Linked DNA regions of Homo sapiens: regions 2, 3, 4, 5 and 6 are each reported to be linked to region 1. The links are microRNA targets in miRTarBase. Many come from high-throughput screens and were not tested one by one. Region 1 holds a microRNA gene; each other region holds the end of a gene's coding sequence.
Evidence for each region. Region 1 holds the annotated microRNA hsa-miR-548ay-5p (AAAAGUAAUUGUGGUUUUUGC, at 1,778-1,798, opposite strand). A microRNA usually pairs through its seed, bases 2 to 8, with sites in the 3' UTR of a target mRNA and lowers its output. Matches are read on the target gene's strand: a 7mer-m8 pairs with bases 2 to 8, a 7mer-A1 pairs with bases 2 to 7 and ends in A, and an 8mer does both.

Region 1 (3,540 bases):
CAAAAATTAGCCGGGCGTGGTGGCGTGTGCCTGTAATCCCAGCTACTCGGGAGGCTGAGGCAGGAGAATCGCTCAAACCCGGGAGGTGGAGGTGGCAGTGAGCTGAGATCGCGCTACGGCACTCCGGTCTGGGCAACAGAGTGAGACTCCGTCTCAAAAAAAAAAAAAAGCAGGCCGGTCGCGGTAGCTCACGCCTGTAATCCCAACACTCTGGGAGGCCGAGGGGGACGGATCACGAGGTCAGGAAATCAAGACCATCCTGGCTAACACGGTGAAACTCCATCTCTACTAAAAATACAAAAAATTAGCCGGGCGTGGTGGCGGGCGCCTGTAGTCCCAGCTACTCGGGAGGCTGAGGCAGGAGAATGGCGTGAACCTGGGAGGCGGAGCTTGCAGTGAGCCGAGATCACACCATTGCACTCCAGCCTGGGCGACAGACCGAGACTCCGTCTCAAAAAAAAAAATCATTGTTAAAAAAACAACAACAACAAGGATCTCTAATAAAGCAACTGCAGTAACATATTAATGGTAATATTTAGGTGAAGTATACGGGTGTCCACTGTACAATTATTTCAGCATTTCTGTATGTTTGAACATTTTCAAAATAAAGTATTGGGAGGAAGTTACAAAGAAACAAGGATACTTTGAGACAAGAGAGAAGATGAACAGACTTCGTCAACCCTCTTGGTTTGTTTAGGGCACACTTATGCAATTCTCTAGGGGTCTCTGCTTCTCTTTGCATTTTTAGAAGAAGACACAAATTTAGCCTGTGATTCATAAACTCCAACATGGCGAAGAATCATCTGTGAGATTAATTAAAAAGGAAGATTCTTGGAGATCTAGCCCCAAAGATTCTGAATGTAGATGGGGCTTGGGAATATACTTTCGTAACAAGCTCTTCATGTGAATCTGGGAAGAAATCCATCCACATAGAGAAACACTGTTTTATAATGTGATAAAAGTGAAAGCCATTGTGTAGTAGACAGTAGACGTGCCATATTTTCTTTGCTCTGATTGATTTGGGGGTGCCTGGGATTTAGAGACTAATATTTCACCCAGGTAAAGAAATGGGCATCCCTTACATTTTCTTCATAAATTGAAAGACCAAATAAAAATGTTAGTGCTTCATGAGCAAATACTTGTATAGGAAACTCTTTTGATGGGCATATTCACACAGAAAACTGTCACCCTCATTAATGAATAAAACAACTTGCAATAGTCAAATGGTGGGACTCACTATGTTGAAATGAGAAATCTTACGTATGGTGAAAAAAATACGACAAAAAGAAGAAAGGAAGATACACTAAATTTAGGTTTTAAAGAATATTCACTGTTCTCCTTTAAAATTAGATATTTAATTTTTTAAAAAAAGAAAGAAAAACATTCACAAGAAGAGAGAGCGATTGGGGAACATAATTTGATGGGACTTCAGCCATTCAAAAAATAATGTGGTAGTGTTGGAGGCTGTTGCAAGACCTTGGTTCTTGTCTTCTTAGTTTAAAAGAATTTAAACAAGAGACATACAGCAAAAGAGATGCAGCATAATTTATTGCAAAAGAAAAAAAAATTTTGAAAGCTAAGTACAAAATAGACATCACACCCTGAGAGAGAGAGAGAATTCAGGGCAGGCTGCTCGTAAGGATGAGACAACATTGATTATTGCTGGAGGTTATTGCTAATCATGTATTATTTGCATGATTATTCATAAGGAGGTGGGAAGAAGTGTTACCGTTAGGTTCGTGCAAGAGTAATCGCGGTTTTGGCCATTACTTTAAATGCAAAAACCACAATTACTTTTGCACCAACCTAGTAGTAAGCATCTTCTGGTTGGTCCTCTGGCTGCACATGTGCAGTAGCTGTGCACCCATGTTCCTCCCTCAGGTGTCCCATTAGCATTGTAAATCTCCACCCAAGGGCATGTTTTTTGCTATTATAATGAGCAAAAGGTCAGTTTGAGGACAGGTAAAATCAAAGTGCTCATGCTCTCTATAGAAGAAATTTCCTACTGAAGATAGCTTTGCTCGACTGAGTTCAATCACAATTCAAATGCTGAGGCTTATTGTGTTGACTGTTGGGGTCACCATGGTTGCTGCGTCCTGAGGATATGGGCACTTCCTTGACTGCCTATCCTGCCTCAGTACTACTTTTTCAGTTCAGAGTTTAATTTTTTTCAGCAGTTCCTGCTAAACAATTTTTCACTGGCCCTCTTATCGGTATTAGCACAGTTAGGCAATACTGTGGATACAAAGTTAGATTATAGACGCTATCCTACAATGATACCACAGTAATGTCCACAAAGAACTATGTTACAAAATAGAAAGAGATATGTGTTATAGAAGAGATACAAATTAAATATGTTGCTAATTCGGAGCAGAGAGAAATAACTTTCAGTTTAAAGGATCACTACAGTGGAGCTTCAAGATGGGGTTAAACTATACTTCGGTTTGGACATGCAGATACAGGGCAGAAAGTATTCAGGCAGTAGGGTGGTATGAAGGAAGGCAAAGAAAGTGTGCATAGGCACAGTGAATGAAGGGAGCAGGAAAGGACAGAGTAGTTAAGGAATATAAGCTCGAGATCAAATTTTGGAAGGCTTTGAAAATCAAGCTAAGGAACTGGGCCTTTCCATTATTGTTGGGTAATGAAGAACCCCCAACGAGTTTTAGGAAGGGGAGTGAAATGATCGGAGCTTTTCCTTGGGGATATTTTTCTAGTAGCCTTGAGCGCAGTGGTTACAGAGATCCAAGTAAGGGCTATTGTAAAAGTTCAGGAGAGAGGGAATAGAAGCTTAAACTCTGACGTTAATCATGGGGATGGCACCAAGAGAACCTTGGAGGTAAAACCAGTGAGATTTGAGGACTGATTTGTTTAGAGAGTAAGAAAGGAACTGGAGCAGGTGCCAATATTTCAAGTCTGGGTAACAAGGAGATTGAGGGAGAATAATAACAGAGAGGTAATATAGGAGGCAGTAACTCTTATTGATGTCAAAGTACAAATTTCAAAAAATTAAAAAGATAACTTTCATACAAGCATATAGTAAGCCTGCTTCAAAGATTTATCTAATTTATTAATAGGCTGGGCTCATGCCTGTAATCCAGGCAGGAGGATTCCTTGTGTCCAGGAGTTCGAGACCAGACTAGACCCCATCTCTAAAAAAAAAAAAAGAAAGAAAGAAAAAAAAATTAGCTGAGTGTGGAGGCATATGCCTGTAGTCCCAGCTACTTGGGAGGTTGAGGTAGAAGGATCGCTTGAGCCCGGGAAGTTGAGGCTACAGTGAGCCTTGATTGTGCCATTGTGCCACTGCACTTCAGCCCAGGTGACAGAGTGAGACCTTGTCTTAAAAAAATAAAATAAAATAAAATATTGCCTTTCCAACTTGGACCCAACAGAATGGCTTCCGCAAAGAAGGGTGGCCAAAAGAAAAAGGGCCGTTCTGCTATCAACGAGGTGGTGACCCAAGAATACACCATCAACATTCACAAGCGCACCCATGGAGTGCGCTTCAAGAAGTGTGCCCCTTGGGCACTCAAAGAGATTCGG
Region 2 (3,540 bases), not on the chromosome of region 1:
GGATACAAACAAATGGAAGAACATTCCATGCTCATGGATAGGAAGAATCAATATCATGAAAATGGCCATACTGCCGAAGGTAATTTATAGATTCAATGTCATCCCCATAAAGCTACCAATGACTTTCTTCACAGAATTGGAAAAAACTACTTTAAAGTTCATATGGAACCAAAAAAGAGCCCGCATCGCCGAGTCAATCCTAAGCCAAAAGAACAAAGCTGGAGGCATCACGCTACCTGACTTCAAACTATACTACAAGGCTACAGTAACCAAAACAGCATGGTACTGGTACCAAAACAGAGATATAGATCAATGGAACAGAACAGAGCCCTCAGAAATAACGCCGCATATCTACAACTATCTGATCTTTGACAAACCTGACAAAAACAAGCAATGGGGAAAGGATTCCCTATTTAATAAATGGTGCTGGGAAAACTGGCTAGCCATATGTAGAAAGCTGAAACTGGATCCCTTCCTTACACCTTATACAAAAGTTAATTCAAGATGGATTAAAGACTTAAATGTTAGACCTAAAACCATAAAATCCCTAGAAGAAAACCTAGGCATTACCATTCAGGACATAGGCATGGGCACAGAATTCATGTCTAAAACACCAAAAGCAATGGCAACAAAAGCCAAAATTGACAAATGGGATCTAATTAAAATAAAGAGCTTCTGCACAGCAAAAGAAATTACCATCAGAGTGAACAGGCAACCTACAAAATGGGAGAAAATGTTCGCAACCTACTCATCTGACAAAGGGCTAATATCCAGAATCTACAATGAACTCAAACAAATTTACAAGAAAAAACAAACAACCCCATCAAAAAGTGGGCGAAGGACATGAACAGACACTTCTCAAAAGAAGACATTTATTTATGCAACCAAAAAACACATGAAAAAATGCTCACCATCACTGGCCATCAGAGAAATGCAAATCAAAACCACAATGAGATACCATCTCACACCAGTTAGAATGGCAATCATTAAAAAGTCAGGAAACAACAGGTGCTGGAGAGGATGTGGAGAAATAGGAACACTTTTACACTGTTGCTGGGACTGTAAACTCGTTCAACTATTGTGGAAGTCAGTGTGGTGATTCCTCAGGGATCTAGAACTAGAAATACCATTTGACCCAGCCATCCCATTACTGGGTATATACCCAAAGGATTATAAATCATGCTGCTATAAAGACACATGCACACGTATGTTTATTGCAGCACTATTCACAATAGCAAAGACTTGGAACCAACCCAAATGTCCAACAACAATAGACTGGATTAAGAAAATGTGGCACATATACACCATGGAATACTATGCAGCCATAAAAAATGATGAGTTCATGTCCTTTGTAGGGACATGGATGAAGCTGGAAATCATCATTCTCAGTAAACTATCGCAAGAACAAAAAACCAAACACTGCATATTCTCACTCATAGGTGGGAACTGAACAATGAGAACACATGGACACAGGAAGGGGATCATCACACTCTGGGGACTGTTGTGGGGTGGGGGGAGGGGGGAGGGATAGCTTTAGGAGATATACCTAATGATAAATGACGAGTTAATGGGTGCAGCACACCAGCATGGCACATGTATACATATGTAACTAACCTGCACATTGTGCACATGTACCCTAAACCTTAAAGTATAATAATAATAATAATAATATAAAATTAAAAAATTAAAAATAAATAAATAAACAAAGTCCCCACCACTTCCAAATGCCATCAACATACAAATTTGGAGATTAAGTTTCACACACATGAAATCTGGGGGGCACATTCAAACCATGGCAACAAGGTATCTAAAGTATTCAAACTCATAGAAACAAAAAATTATAATTTCAGTTGAGAGAGACTTGGGGAAGGAGGAAATGGGGATTTGTTCAATAAATAGAGAATCTTAGTTTTACAAGGTGAAAAAGTCCTTGAGATCTGTTGCACAAGGTGAATACAGTTAACACTGATGAACTGTACACTCAAAGTGATTAAGATGGTAAATTTTATATGTTTTTACCATAATTTTTTAAAAATAAAAATAATTTTAAAATATGATTTAGATACAACTATTCTAGCACAAATAGGATTAATATAATTATATGTTAAGAGTGCATTAATTCAGAAAAGCTAGGAAATAAGTAAATAATGAAATGTCAGACCTCTCAGATGCACACCAATTCTCTTTTGCACTTACTGAATTGGAGATTTCATGGATGAAAGCACAGCAGATGCTAAAAATTTGTTTTCTGCTTTCCCTTCTTTCCCTTTTCCTCTACTCAACCTGTCCCCAACTGCAAATATATGCACTGAAGACAATAAAGGAAAAAATAATACAGTGTTCTGCTTTTCTCTTCCCTTTGCAGTCCTCCATAACAGGTACAGTAGTATTAGTTCAGGAACAAGGAAAATGGGAGGGAAGCTCAATTCCAGCCTTCTCATTATGAAAACCAGACCATTTCTTATATTTCAGGCTCAAGATGGCAGCTCTACCAGGCAGTAGAAAGATATCTGAGTACTCAAGATCTTCAAAACCAAATGAGAAATTAATTTTAAAAATAAAATACTACTATGTATCTCCTATTTCACTGAACTAATTTCAAATTAAAGGTGGCAAAAATAAGAGACAACACACCCACATAACACACATTTTCTTTACTAACCAATGAAACAAAATATAAGAAAATATATATCATAAATGAATAGCTTATTCCATTAGGAAATATCTCATTCTACATTCTCTTAGAACTGGTTTTCCATCAATTTCATCACATTTTGTTTCTGCACTTCTGTTTGGGTGAAAACTCCCATAATAAACAATAAGAAAAAGAATTCCAAGAAGAAGAGTAAGAACTATAGTTATACTGATAGGTATAAAATAGTCTGGATTAAAAATAGTGAGGGGGCAAACCCAGAATACAGTCAATATCCCCAAAGTGCCCAGTACCCTAACAATATAATAACAAGACATTGGACACTTGGTATTCTGTCCCTTAATATTAAAAAATGTAAAGATAAGAATGAATCCAACAACAATCCTATATAAGAATTCCATACTTATACAAGTACAAAACTGGGTGTTGTTTTTAAATGCCCATATTATACCTAACAACCAAAGAAATAACAACAGAAATAAAGCAATCTTAACATTTAAGAATAGTAGAAGTACAACACTCAGCATCCACGATAATAATGTAAACAACTTGTAAAAGAGATATGTGATTTTGGGACATAATCCATTAAGAAGCTTTTTGTCAGGCAAGGATTTTCTTAAAGCTACTTGATAATCAACAGTTGACCAAGAAATAGCACAGCAAGAGACCATGATGGCCGCATCTACAAAACAAAAAAATAAAAAATATATTGTTATAGGAATAATAGAAATATTAGATTACTATATCCCATACATGCTATATCTATATACACACACCCACAAACACGTCACATACTTTACTCTTCTCATCTAATCTTTTGAAGTAGATATTATTATGTATGGGGGAACTGAGACTTGGAGAGATACACTGCTTGACCCAAGTTGCAA
Region 3 (3,540 bases), not on the chromosome of region 1:
ACAATAAAAAACAATACATTTGTGAAAACTAAGAAGTAACTGAATATAAATATCTTTATTAATTTAAAATCAGATTCTACAGAAATATTTTATCACCAATAGAATACCTGTGTAAAAAACTAAAATTGAAATTTGAAAATAAAATGCACTAATTGTATGACAATTTTAAAATTCATTAATGTAAGGATTGAGCGCTAAAGATGGAGGAATAATTTGTTGGCATATAGAACAACTTTTAATACTAAAATACATTAAGTTAGTGACTTACATTCGTTTACTAAAAGGGCATGAGGTCTTGGCAAATGTTTTTTATTCTGAATGATTGAGGAAAACAGAAAAATTGTTAAAATTTTAAAGAAATATTTTATACCTTGTAAAACATTACATTAACTTATGCATAAACTAAATACTACTGAAAAAGATTTAACTCTTTATTTTACAGAATTGATTGGTAATTGATTTAATGACTAAAATAGGAAAACTGAAAATGATAAATATAAGTTTGGACCATCTATGAAAGAACACTTTAAGTTCAAACTTTCAGAAAGACCCTGTGGTTGTTTTAAAAGGCAGCGAGGGTCACTTTGGTTGTGTAAGTAATTGTAATAAATCAGAAAATATAATTTAATAATCTAGTCAATGAGCTCTGTAGCCAGTGAGACCTAAAATTAATTACAGCTTTGAAACTCATAATGCATGACCTTTACAAAGTTACTTGGTGTCTACAACACCAGTTTACTAATCTAGATTGGGGAAAATAATTTATGAAGTATAATGTATATAAAACCCTTAACATACAACCTGGCACACATTAGTCCTCAATACATATTAGATATTTTAATTATTTTTAACACAATTGCCATTTTATTATTTCTAATTCATACTGAGTGTGTAAAATAACTAATGAGGTAGGAGTCTCATGTCAGTGTAGTACATCTTTTTTGCAATGTTTGTTTGGCTCAATTTTTTTTAGGTCGTCCTATTATTTATAATTAAGTTTAGATTTGCATTTTATGGAAACTACTTCATTATTACATTCTTAAAAAAATAAAATCTGCTTCAATTAAATATAAGTATGTGTATGAGAAATTATGTTTGACATTCACAATTTGATGTATCCATTAAAAATGCATTTTTAAAGTCTGGGCTAAATATAAAGTATTATTACATCTATAATGATTATAAAATTTCAAATTAATTCTTCATTGTCGTGATATTTATCGGTTTCACTCTAAATTATATTGATTAACAAACCTATTATGATGTATGCATGTGCTTGACTAATTCTCCACAGGCAATAATGTAAATACTTTAAGAAATCCTCAAACATATATTATATTTTGGGTTGCTTTTCACCCTGAATTATTCATGTACAGACAGTTCTACTTTGATTTTATTCTGTATTAACTTTACCTTGTTGCATCACATTTAATATTTACAATTTTCTACTAAAGGAGATGAGCTAGTAGAGAAACAGGAGACTAGCAACACATACCTTCTGTCATCAGAAAGTCACACGCCCCTTAGTGGAGAGGTCAGGTTACCTCTTAACGACACAAAAGACATCTGTGATCCGGTGAAACCCCGTCTCTACTAAAAATACAAAAACTTAGCCGGGTGTGGTGGCGGGCGCCTGTAGCTGCTTGGGAGGCTGAGGCAGGAGAACGGTTGAACCCGGGAGGCGTAGCTTGCAGTGAGCTGAGATCGGGAGCCACTGCACTCCAGCCTGGGCGACAGAGCGAGACTCTGTCTCAGAAAAAAACAAAAAACAAAAAACAGATATCTCTGATCTTCACAGACTGCCCTGTGAAAGCTCAGAGTGAGGCAAGAGTGCAAAAAGCAGATTCCTCATCAATGTATCACTTCGGATTTGAACAGGAAGTTTTCACACTAGGGCCATTTTGAATCAGTTTATCTCATCATACACCTCAGAATATAAGAGACTGAGCTGCTAGGGTGTCATTTAGTTTGTCCATTTTCAAGTGACTTTTAGAAATTATTTTTATAGTAAACAAGATTTGGGGAGAACAAAGACTACTACCCATGCAGTTGTTTCCATCTCAATCACAAACACTAAAATCTTATACCTTTTTCAGAGTCTCTTACATGTTTAACTTCTACATTTACACAGGGTGGCTAAAACTTGGGATTACGTACTTCTTTATCATATACCCCTATAATATCACTGCTAATATGACGATAAATTTTTAAAATAATAATCTTACCAATAGGAATTTAATGTATTTGTCACTAATTATTCTGAGAAAATACATTTCCACTTCATTGTAATTGACATCAATTCTCAAAGTTAAATTCCCAACTTACTTTCTTGATAGTTCTTAAAATTCTCTCATTCAGTTTTTTAAAAATAAATTAATCAGATAACTCTCATTGAAATATATGTCTCTGGGAAGAATAAATAATTAAAAAATATTGTACTATATCACCACGCCAGAGATTGAAATATATAAAAACCACTCATTATATTGTTCATTGATTTATTTTCCAATCATAACGGTCTGCATTTTAATATTAATATTTGTTGTAAATGACTAATGCTTAAATCAAACTATATAGAGAGGGAAAAGTAATTTTTAAAACATCATCTAGTTAAAAATAGGGAGGGCAGAAAAAGTAGATTTTTAAAACACAAGCTAAATGGTACATGAGCACTCAGGGGCGGTGGCTTGTGTCAGTAATCCCAGCAACTTGGGAGGCCAAGATGTGTTGATTTCTTGAGCTCAGGAGTTCAAGACCAGCCTGGTCAACATGATGAAACCCCGTCTCTACAAAAAAATACGAAAATTAGCCAGCATGATGGTATTGGCCTGTAGCCAGCTACTCTGGTTGCTGAGGTGGGAGGATCGCTTGAGCCTTGGAGGTGAGGTCGAGGCTGCAGTGAGCCGAGATGAAATTTACTGAAATTGGGGAAATATACTTCATAATGATAAATTAATTTTCCAAACCATTAGTAATATATTTTTTATCATTGCATATACCTAATGATACAAGTTCAACATATAGTTGAATAAAGTGAACAAGTAAACAATCATAAATGGGATTTTTAAAGACTCTTCTCTTGATGCTTAATACAAGACAGGCCAGTGAGCCTATAGAAAGATTTAAACTAGACAAGTAACCATCACTCATATGAATGCATTCACACACATATACTCACACGGATACTCAATTTCAATGTAGTACCGCTAGCCAAGCTTGGCTAGGAGACAGTTGAAATGTAGCTATTCAAATTTAACATTAATTAATAAAAATAAATAACATTTAAAACCAGTACCTCACCACATGAGCCACATTTATAAAGGGATGAAGAACATTTCCAGTTTAATAGAAAATGTTCTAACTATATTTTACCTACAACAGAAGTCAATAAACAAAAATCTGAGAACCTTATATGGTTTTTAATTCAGTAATATATGTCAAAATAACATATGGGCCAAAGAAATTATCAAGATGAATGGTCACAAAGGACTACTAAGGGAAGATTTTGAAAAGGCACAGATATTTTATTCCCAGTTTAAA
Region 4 (3,540 bases), not on the chromosome of region 1:
ACTCTGTCATGGTTGGAGTCTAGCCCACTACGGAAGGCTAGATATTTTACAGATCTCTTCTCAGATCTTTACTGCTGCCAAACCAGAAACACTCAGCTTTCAGAACACTACATATTGAAAGTGTTGGTGTTGGTTCTGGCCATTTGTCGTCCCTAAAATGACAAAATGCTGAAGCACTTCAAAATATACCTTTATATAATTTTTAACTAACATTTGAATATATTCTTTTTGGTTTTGCCCCTACATTCTGATATTGTATTCACATTCATTGAAACCAGAAGGCTATAGCAAATAAGGTAAATGTTTTAGGAGTGTCAGATTCCATTCTGATATTTTTATACTTTTGATATTTTACCAAAATAATATTCTAAAATTGATTATGGTGATGTTTGCACAACTCTGAAGATACTAAAACCCACTGAATTGTTTACCTTAGATGAGTGAATTACCTGATACAGGAATTCCATCTCAATAAAGCCTTTTTAAAAAGTAATACTCTTATATTAATGAAGACTCATAAGCTCCCAACTTTGTGACTAATAGTGCCTCTAATCTGTGCTGTTCTTTTTGACTGCAGAAGTCTGTGGCCCAATGACATCTTTGGAAGCAGTTCTGATGATGAGGTCCAGACACTACTGAATATTTATTTCCGTCACCAAACTCTGGGACAGACGGGTACTTATGCCCTGGTGGGGTCTAACCAGAGCCTGACCGAGATCTGCACCAAGCTGATGGAGCTGAACATGGAGATCCGGGACATGATCCGCAGGGCCCAGAGTTACCGAGTCCTCACTACTTTTCTTCCAGACTCCAGTGTTTCTGGCACTAGTCTCTGACAGGAGCCTCCTGTCCCCACTGGGTTCCAAACTGGCAGTGCTGCCATGCTGGGGCAACGTCATTCAGTGTCTTCTCGGCCTTCAAAAGGCTTGGACAGACTGTTCTCCCTCTTGTTACCTGTAGGGCTTTTTCTAAAGAGGATGGCAGAACTTCCAACGTGTAGCAATACTATAAGAACCAAGGTAGCTTAGAACGTCCTGGACAGACTCCACTCATCATGCTGTGTGGCACAAATGTGTTACATTTGACCGAGCATATGCAACTCGCTACTGAAGAAGTGACTTCCGTTGCATACCAAAGCCGACTACACTGAACAGTACCTTCCTTTCTAGAAACAATTTTAGATTGGCAAAAGTGCAATGTTTTCTTCACTCAAAAAATTTTATATTCTCAAACATGTATATTCTTTCCCTGTCTTGTTCCATTTTCTTTTCTTTTTTCTTTTTTCTTTTTCCTTTCTTTCGTGGGCTGAGAAAGGGGCAGGCAAAATGAAGCTGGCCACTGAAAACTGTAAGATGGTCAAAAGCTGACAGCCTGTGTATGTGAAAAGGGAATTGTAAATGGACTGCAATGTAATGTACACTGTAATTTGAATACAATTACTGTATCTAAAAGGAGCTGCTATGAAGTACCTTTCTTATGTTGCTAGGCTACTGTTTCTGAAAGCCCTGGATCTCTTTGCACCAAAAATGGTCCAGATAGACTCTTTTTAAGGATCTTGGCTGCTTTTTACTAGAAGGTTGCTTTTATGAGCATATTTATACTGCTGAAGGATGAGTGTTAATTTTAATTAACTTTGCCGTTTTGTAGAGAAAACTATTCACAAGATAAATTCCAAGTCTTTTCACCTGTCAGGCATGCATATTTTAATATCTGTTTGGATAGTCAGAAGTAGAATCATAAAGGTAAAATATGAGTTGTTACTTTGTTTCTTCGATGTCATATTTTATGTGTAATATATATGTAAAGGGCCATTCTTAAGTTCTCTCCTTAAACTTAATGCTGTCAAGTGTTAGATGTGTGCATGTGAACTTGTTGCACTGCAGAAACATATTCAGAGTTTATCTATGTAACTTATTCACTCTGTAAATACATTTAAAGTTTTTGTGATGTAAGCTTAATTGATATTCTGTTCAGAACTTTCTTTAGACTAAAAAAAAAAAAAAAGACAAAATACACGTTGACCATGGACTTTATTTCTGGTTAATGAAAATGTTTGTCCTGGGCACACATGAAGTTTTGCATGTGGGTTGCCAAAGTAATAACCCCAAGGGGCACCCCTCGCATGTATGATCTGAATGGCACCCGTGGGGGTCATGCCATGCATGGCCCTGTGAAGCTGGAGGTAAGTATTATCTCTTTGGAAGTTGGCATCAAAACTGTGAGCTTCAACCAATTCTCTGTAATCAACCAAAGAGAAAAATCAGAAAAAAGTGAGAGCTCTAATTCTCCATAACCTATAATTAGGTTGTCATCCTTCAAATTTGGAAGTTAATTCTATAGTGAGCAGGAAAAAGTAGTAGAGTTGTAATTCTGTCACCAACACCTATCCCCCAGGAACACAGGGAGAAACATGTAACAATCTCATTTATGCCGTCTTTCTACTCATATTTTACATGGACCAACAAATATAGCTTGCTTTACTAGCATATGGCTACTGAATCATTGGCAGTAATATTCTAGGAGTATTCTATAGAAGAGAGCCTAACCTAGGATTTTTTTTAAATCCTAGTAGTTGCTACAGATGCAACTACTAGATTTTAATAATTTTCTGGACTGCTGAAAACATATTTTTCTGATGATTTATTTTTTTCAACTTGCCTGAAAGATGATTTGCTATGATTTGTAGAAACAACTGAATCATGATCTCTCTGAAAAATATCATAAAATAAAGGTTTCTGTGGCTAACCACAGTAGACAACTTTCAGAGAGTTTTGTTGGGAGCCACAGTAGAAAGAACAGATTCGTCATGAACTGAGTTTTCTACCATGGCTTCTTACCCAGCAGAGAACCACCGTGATGGTTTACTCTTAAAAAGGGAAGGAAAAAAAAAAAGGATTTCAACAGTACATTACAATCCAAGATATTAACATAGGAAGCAGTGGTCTGTGTTTTTCTCAATTTTATTTTTAAAAGGAGATGTATTAATGTGAAAGGTTTCTTCTACTTTTCCTCTATCTCTTCACCTCCTCTACTTTAAGTGGAGATGGGAAAAATTGTGTAGGATGCAGCCCCACGCCAGCAGAGCCCAGCAATAACTTTAGATCTACCAGTCAAATCTTGTCGGCTATTGCTCTGTGCCTCTGTTACAGAAGCATTAATGTTAATTGCCTTCCCCAGGGATACAAAGAAGTAGAAGTACCAAAGGAAAGGGTAGATATTTAACAGATGCCTCAGTGATAAGAAAGATGCCTCCTTGTGTCTCACTGTTTTCTAGCACTGAAACATGATACACTTTGTATCCACCTGCAGAATAAAGCAATCCAGACAGGCGCTCTGTAACTTAGACATCACTTGATTAAAATTATAGTCTCCAAATATAGTGTTTTAGAAAAGGCACTGCACATTTTTAGAGGCACGTGAATGTCATTCCCACCTCTAACCCATCTAACATCGGTGAGATGTTAAGAAAATGTGCCGATGTTACTGTGAAATAAAGATGCCTGTAATTAATTGTAGGCATCACACACATGCGTGAACATC
Region 5 (3,540 bases), not on the chromosome of region 1:
TGGTAAAACTCAAGGGAGGATCCAAAAACTATGGGCACTAAAAAGGGGAGGGAAACCGCCAGAAGTGGCTCTGACCTGCTGCCGCTGCCACCACCTCTAAAGCCAAGAATGTAGAGCCTCTGCCCAGGGATCTGGATGCTCTCCTGAGTGTTGGAAGGGCAGCCTGGAAAGGCATTTGGTGGTGAAACACCGCTGCTCCAGACTTACGCTACCATCTATTGTTGGGGGCCCAGAGTCCTTGGATTCACTGCCAGGCCTTCTTCCAGATCTTTCTGTACCTGTGTGTTTGGGCTCCTACTCCCACCTCTCCCAGGCGCAGGGAGAGGACAAAAAGCATAAGGGACTCTGTTCAACCCAGCAAAAGTCAGTTTCCCAGTGGAGAGGCAAAGCCCCACCCAGAACATAAACATGCATGGGACCAAGGTTAGTGCCCAGACAGGACAGACTTGCACAGAACAAGAGGGCACAGTGGGATCCATGCGGCAATTACAGGAGCTTCCAGCACTAACAGAGGAGCCTTATCCCACCTTCATCACACACACTTAGATGGACACACACACACTCTCGCTCACACTCTCACACATGTGCACACATACACACACTCTCTCTCTCTGCAGCCACACTCAAATCTGCTAAACTCCTACAACCTCCCCCAGCAGGTCATTTGACAATTCTGCATCTTCCGCTCTCTGGTGCTGGGGCTCTGGTCAGAGGCGAGCCAATGTCTTATCATTAGAGAGATGTGGGATTAGGTAAGGGGCAGAGTCATGGCACTGCTCACACACCTTCCCGAAACTGGGGTCTATTCAGTTTTTTGACAAGATCAAAAGCAATTCTTAACTGGTCATTATTTTTTTTTAAGGTAATTAGAACACTATTGTTTATACAATATTGAAAAAATACAATTTTTTATTGTTTGAACTCAAATCACCACCCAGCACTTTAAGCCTACCCTAAATAGCACCTACAATAAATGTCATAGCACAAGCAAACTGCAAAGTCAGCAGGTAAGCAAGTTAGACAGTGCCAGCAGAGAGACCCTCCCTCCCCCAAAGCAATGAGAAGACAGCGTGCTAGGTAAGAGTGAAGTACACCATTACATGTTAAATAGTTAATACTACCCTTCCAGCAAGCCACAGATGCTAGATGGATAACTCAGTACGGTTAACTAACCACAGCCCTACATCACTGCACTTTTTTTTTTTTTTAAAGAAAACCTTTTGCTTCATGCCCGTAATTAACATAAAGTAAGTAAATTCTTTGTCTTTTTATTTAGGAAAATAATCATGCTAAAAGCAAGTTGTACTTTATATAGATTTTCAAACAAAAGATTGATTGTGCTTTTTGAATAAAAAAGATAGGGTATCTTCCAACCTCACTGACTTAAACCTTGTGGAATACAGCACTTCTAAACTAAAAACACACGTCAAAAAGAAAAATTAAATAATCCCAGTGGGATGCTCAAAAATCGTCTTTAGAAGGTTTTAGGATTGGCTAATTCTGCTATTATCTTATTGGCTGCGGCAAAAAAAGAACACAGAGCTGCTGTCTAAAATTTCTCCAAACTCCCCTCCGAGTTCAGCAGGCAACACTCAGATTTGAAAGAAACTCTGCAGCAACCTGGACATATGGTTAGCTGAGTCGACATTTGATTAGCAGGCATTTTAAACTGATTTCCTCTTAACATACGCAGGAGAGAAAACATTTTCTTCCTGCAGGGCATGTTCTACTACATCATATTTCTGAATCCCTTCTTCCTATTCGGTCACTCTCTGAAAAAAGCTGGTTTGTTTTTCCCATGTAGAATCACTCTGGGTACAAGAACCTTTATTTGTTCCAATTATTATTTGTTTTAAATTTAGAACCTGTGTTGGGTCTAAAATACCCATTTCCCACTCCCACAAGCAGATGATGACCAGGCTGCTGCCAAGAGCAGCAGAAAAAGGGAAAACCAAACCAGAACATGAAGGCAAGTACCCAGGGCTTTGCAGTCACCACGTGGGTCGTCTTCTCAAGTCTAATGGTCCATGAGCGGCTTGTCCAAGGAGGCGGCCGCCTCTTGGTAGGTGAAGATGAAATCTGCAACCTTTCTAAGCACAATACACACACACACACACCAAAAAAATAACCCCCCCAGAAACACAACCCTCATATTTAAAGCTCTTAAGTTCAGGGTAGCGGTCTCAAACTGCCAAACACTAGGATGAGGATGTGACTCTGCATGTGTTTTGGATGAGAGGAAGCATCGTCCCAGTCACTTTTCTCCTCCTGTGCTGTCCTTTCAAAAACAGGTCTGGATTTCACGCTCTACCCCAAGAAAAAGAACTGGTTCAGAAAACACTTCCCCAAGTTTCTCCAACAGAACACTGTGGCTGCAGGGCCTGGTAGTGTGAAGGGCAGCAACTGACATATAAAAATGTACTTAAAATCAGAGTCAAAAAATGGTTTTAAGTTTTAATACTCTTAATTAGCTCCCTGCTTTATACTGTAACTCCACAGAAGACATAGGGCCACCTAGGATTCACAGGAAGGAGCAGCTCTGATTCTTACATGGCTGGCTCCGATGCCCCCACAGCAGGCCTCTTCCTCCCCAAGTTTTTCCTCTCCATTTCAAAAAAGCACTATTTTATCTTCACATCCAAGAGCTGGTTGGTTTGGTTTGTTTCTTTGGAAACCAATAAAAGAAGCAATTTTTTCCTGTTCTTTTTACTCACATCTACCTATCAGAGCGGCTATTTCCTTCGACAGTTCAGTAGCACACAGGCTGACTTGGCCACATGGACTCATGAATGCATGCATTCAGACCGCATATTGCTACCAAATGGAATGTGGGAATATGCTATGCACCTCAGGTTGAGAAATGACCAAGAAATCAAGATCTAAAGGGTGATATATAATATATATATATCAATGCTATTATTCATAAAAACCTTGTTTAGTAATAAAAAAAATTGCTTTGTTTAAATATGAATATTATAGTCTGCTTCTCATGGTTAGGAAATAATAGTCTTTCTGAAAAGCAGGTGCTTTTTCTACTACAACTCCATATCCTGGGCCTCATCTTCGGAAAAGTCAGACATAGAGCTCTCCGATGAGCTGTCCCCGGTACCCTCTTCCTGTTCTTTCAGCGCCTCCTCCGTGGCGTATTTCTGGATGTACTCTGCACGGGGTGGGAGAAAGACAACAAGGGCAGTGAGTGGGCAGGCATGTGCTTTGGCGACCCCAAAAAGCTGGCAAGGCTGCGGAGGTTCAAACTTACCTTGAACACCAGGGGGGACAAAGATGACAGTAATCATGATCACTACAGCTAAGGAGAATCCCATAGGGAGACTTCTTTGGGACAGGGTTTCTGCATTTTGCCCCCTGAGGAAAGGGGTATTGGGAAGAGCAACACAGCAGGCTCAGCTTGCAGGGGAATGTGTGTGCTGCAGCACCCCAAGAACTCTTCAGGGACCAGGGAAATGGGAGCCCCACGCTTTCTTTTTACTTTCATCTCCCAGATAGTATAGGACCAGTCATGATTCCATAGTAATTTATAAG
Region 6 (3,540 bases), not on the chromosome of region 1:
GCCGCCCCGTCCTCACAGTGTACTGTCAGAACTTCGCCCCCAGCTTCAAGGAGAGCGAGATGAACGTGATCGCCGCGGACATGTGCACCAACGCCCGCCGCGTTCGCAAGCGCTGGCTGCCCAAGATCAAGTCCATGCTGCCGGAGGGCGTGGAGATGTACCGCACGGTCATGGGCTCCGCCGCCGCCAGCGTGCCCCTCGACCCCGAGTTCCCGCCTGCCGCGGCACAGGTGTTCGAGCAACGCATCTACGCCGAGCGGCGGGGCGACGCCGCCACCATCGTGGCTCTGAGAACTGACGCCGTGAATGTTGACCTGAGTGCCGCCGCCAACCCCGCCTTCGACGCCGGCGAGGAGGTGGACGGGGCTGGCTCGGTCATCCAGGAGGTGGCCGCCCCCGAGCCGCTGCCCGCCGATGGCCAGAGCCCCCCACAGCCCTTTGAGCAGGGCGGGGGCGGCCCCAGCAGGCCCCAGACGCCGGCGGCCGCGGCCCGGAGGCCGGAGGGCACCTATGCAGGGACCTTGTAAGCGGAGCTGGGTGGCTGCGCGAGGGACCGAGTACTAGAGCTGCTTGCATGCGTTACTAATACAAACAAATGTGATCAAGCCACTTACCTACTGAACTGCTACTGTTGCCTGAGAAAAATGTGATTTTTATTCTGCTTGTATTTAAAATTGATGAAGGAAACAAATGCATTCATTATACTGTAAACAATTAGGCCACTGGCAGCCTCCTGCGAGGAAGTTCCCAGGGCTCCCTTTTGATATTCACAAGGTCAGCCTCCAAGTGTAGCTTCCCTCCCCCTTCTTGGGGAGGGTGGGAGGCCGCCAGGCCCCTGGTGCCCAGCCCTGCCCCTTCCTCCCTGCCCTTCCTGCTCCTCCTGCCCGGAAGACGAAGCAGGGGCCGGCGGTGGTCTGTGGCGAGGGGGCTGGGCTGTGCGTCACTGACCCTTCCTTCCTTCCCCATGGAACCTCTCTGGGGCGACGGGGCAGGGCTCAGGCTCCAGGGCCTAACTCCTCGTTTTTCCTTCTTTCGGAGACTCGGGGCCAGGCCCACCGGGCCTTCCACCTGTGTGGGGTGTGTGCACGAGTGTGTGTGTGTGCGTGTGTGTGCAGGGGTGTGGTGAGGGGGCAGTGATGGCTGTGGCCCACCCCTCGGGGTGGAGAAAAGGGTACTTTACTCTGCCCCCACACCCTGTCCTTGTTCTGCCCGATCCGTCTCGGCTCTGCAGCCCCTCGGTCCCCTGACCCCCAGGGCACCGCTGACCCCGCCTGGCCTCCCACTGTCCCGCCCGGGCCCACTGTGGGACGTGCACAGCTGATGTAGCACACGCTGCCCTCTGCCGCCTCAGCCACTTTGGGATTATGCTTGTCTTGTTTTTTTTAGGTTTTGTTGTAATTTAGATCTATTTCATATATGGTTTGGAAACTTTCAGACTCAATAGAACAAAAACTTTGGGTGGGATGGGTGTCCCTGTCCCCAGCCCACCATGGCTTGGGGTGGGTCATCTGTGGCCGTTAGGGTGCGTCCCCCTGCTCCCCCGCCCAGGGCCAGGGACCACTCGTCTCCCACTGGGGGAAAAAGGGGGTCCCGGGTGGGCGACTAGTACGTGTGAAGCTGAGCTCAGGGCCGGACCTGGGGAGCGGGGGACTCCGCTCGGGCAGGAGGCAGCGGCCAGGGCTGGGCCAGGGCGAGAGTCGGTCCTCCCGGTGCTGGGCTCCCCGTCTGCCTTGAGGGGTGTGCATGGATGGAGGGTGCCTGAGGCTGCAGGCAGGGGATGACCGGGACAGGCCTGGGCTGGGGCAGTTGGAGGTATGGGCACTGGTAGGGGACAGAGGGTTAGGGATCATGTTGGGGGGCCAGGGACAGTGGAGGAAGGGCCCATGGAAGATGGGGCTGTTTGGTTTGAGGCTGGAGTGCTTCCTTTGAAATTTAATTACTGTTTTTTAAGTGGTAGGGCTCACAGACTGTGTGAAGTCCTGTGTGAAGTGCTGGTGTGGCCACCTACCCAGGTGTCCCTCCCTTTTGTTTTGGAGGCCTGTGTCCTTGTCCAGGGGCAGCCCTCCTTCCCAGGTGTGGCCAGAAGAACCCCCCATCCCAAGACTTGAAATGTCTGTTGCTCACCTCTGTCCCTCCAGAACTCGGCTTCCCCATCTTCACTTGCAAAACAAGTGCAGCCCTGCGCCCATCAGCACCCCCTCCGGTGTGCACACAGGCCAGTGAGCGGTGGCCGACCAGCGCACCCCACTCCCCCAACCTCCACAACCCATCAAGCGGAGGCCGCCTCCGCTAGGGGAGGACCATGTGCTGCACCCTGGCCTGGGGACCTACAGGGTGTGGGTTAGACGCATTCCCACTGGGCGGCTCCTTTCTGCCCCGAAGCCCACCCCTGTGGCGAGGCCCTAGGAGACCTCCCGTGGGGCCGCCTCTACAGACAGCACTCAGCCTCCTGGGCTGCCTCCAGCCAGGCCCAGCACATGCCTGCCCTCCAGAAAAATACGTTGCTTTCCAGAAGGAGGTGGGGGACCATGGGCAGGCACTGTGGACGCTAACCTCGGCCCCTCCACCCATTCCTCAGGGCCCACGTCCAGGGGGACCAAGACCTGCATTCCTAGGGCTGCAGGTGGCTCAGTGGTGCAGAGGCATCCAGACCTTCTGCTGAACTAAGAACCACCCAGCCTAGAGGGAGCCTTTCTCTGCCTCTTCCTCCCCTGTCTTGGGCACAGGTGGGGTTGGAGCCCCCATGGGGCCCGCTGGGAACCTGGACCAAGCCTTCCTCGGAGATGGGAGGAAGCCGCGGGGTGGAGCAGGGGCAGGTAGGTGAGGTTGAGCTGCACTTGAGTTCCCTCTGGAGTTTCCTTCATCTGCCCCACACCCAAATTTGCACTTTAATTTGACCATCCCTGGGGGCCTGGCTGCTGACAGAAGGGCTCTCTCTGCCCTCCACTCCAAAGTGGGTGCCCCCCCACCCTTGGCCAGGACAGGGAGGGAGCCGCTGGCTGCTGCCGGAGGTGGTGGCTGCACAGAGGACGCCTGACTGCTGTTCAGGCCCGCACAATGTCCCGTGCCCCTTCCTCACTCGTTTGTAATCGCCGTCTGTTTTGTTCTGGGTAAGGAAGGCAAGAGCTATAGATAAAACTTAAATAATAATAATTTAATGTGAATGGGTTCTGAGCTCTCCCTGCGCCCCGGGCGGGCCAGGCCGAGCATTTTGCACTAATGTGTCCCACGGTGGGCGTGAGTCGGGAGTGTCTGTGGACGTGCGTGGCTGCTGAGCGGACCTGCTGTGTGCTCCCTCCACGTCCTGAATGTACCGTGGGGCGGGGGCGGCGGCCCGGGCTCAGAGGGGCCTTCCAGAGTGCCTTAGCATCCTTTGATCATTTTTCCCAAGGAAACCAATTAAGAAAGCCGGACCCTTCCCTCCTTTGTTTACAAGATGACTAATTCTAGAATCCGGGGTTGTCCTGTCCTGTGAGTGTGACCCTGACTCATCCAGACCCTGTAGAGAGAGACGAGCCACTCAGTATTTATGAGATGTCT

Region 2: miRTarBase lists XKR9 as a target of hsa-miR-548ay-5p. Seed matches in the 3' UTR shown: 7mer-A1 at 1,809-1,815 and 7mer-A1 at 1,645-1,651.
Region 3: miRTarBase lists KLRC3 as a target of hsa-miR-548ay-5p. Seed matches in the 3' UTR shown: 7mer-m8 at 2,585-2,591.
Region 4: miRTarBase lists FRY as a target of hsa-miR-548ay-5p. Seed matches in the 3' UTR shown: 7mer-m8 at 1,758-1,764 and 7mer-A1 at 3,030-3,036.
Region 5: miRTarBase lists UBE2H as a target of hsa-miR-548ay-5p. Seed matches in the 3' UTR shown: 8mer at 1,244-1,251.
Region 6: the mRNA of NACC2 is a reported target of hsa-miR-548ay-5p. Seed matches in the 3' UTR shown: 7mer-A1 at 1,173-1,179.

The regions. Positions count from the first base shown.
Region 1 is chr3:32,504,565-32,508,104 of GRCh38, forward strand. MIR548AY (microRNA 548ay) reads right to left here and starts at 1,825; the gene lies at 1,719-1,825. It also overlaps the pseudogene RPL31P18.
Region 2 is chr8:70,733,591-70,737,130 of GRCh38, reverse strand. XKR9 (XK related 9) reads right to left here. Exons shown (of 5, transcript NM_001011720.2): 5 at 1,189-3,335. The coding sequence ends at 2,707. Among named protein-coding and RNA genes, the nearest start is that of XKR9, 66 kb to the right of the region's middle.
Region 3 is chr12:10,409,831-10,413,370 of GRCh38, forward strand. It overlaps KLRC3 (killer cell lectin like receptor C3), which reads right to left. Exons shown (of 7, transcript NM_002261.3): 7 at 2,485-2,786. The coding sequence ends at 2,742. It overlaps KLRC4-KLRK1 (KLRC4-KLRK1 readthrough), which reads right to left and starts at 316. Exons shown (of 13, transcript NM_001199805.1): 1 at 269-316.
Region 4 is chr13:32,294,625-32,298,164 of GRCh38, forward strand. It overlaps FRY (FRY microtubule binding protein), which reads left to right. Exons shown (of 61, transcript NM_023037.3): 61 at 578-3,540. The coding sequence ends at 836. Among named protein-coding and RNA genes, the nearest start is that of ZAR1L, 19 kb to the right of the region's middle.
Region 5 is chr7:129,831,902-129,835,441 of GRCh38, forward strand. UBE2H (ubiquitin conjugating enzyme E2 H) reads right to left here. Exons shown (of 7, transcript NM_003344.4): 7 at 1-3,160. The coding sequence ends at 3,036. Among named protein-coding and RNA genes, the nearest start is that of MIR183, 59 kb to the left of the region's middle. RefSeq lists an enhancer at 2,760-3,419.
Region 6 is chr9:136,008,503-136,012,042 of GRCh38, reverse strand. NACC2 (NACC family member 2) reads left to right here. Exons shown (of 6, transcript NM_144653.5): 6 at 19-3,540. The coding sequence ends at 527. Among named protein-coding and RNA genes, the nearest start is that of UBAC1, 49 kb to the right of the region's middle.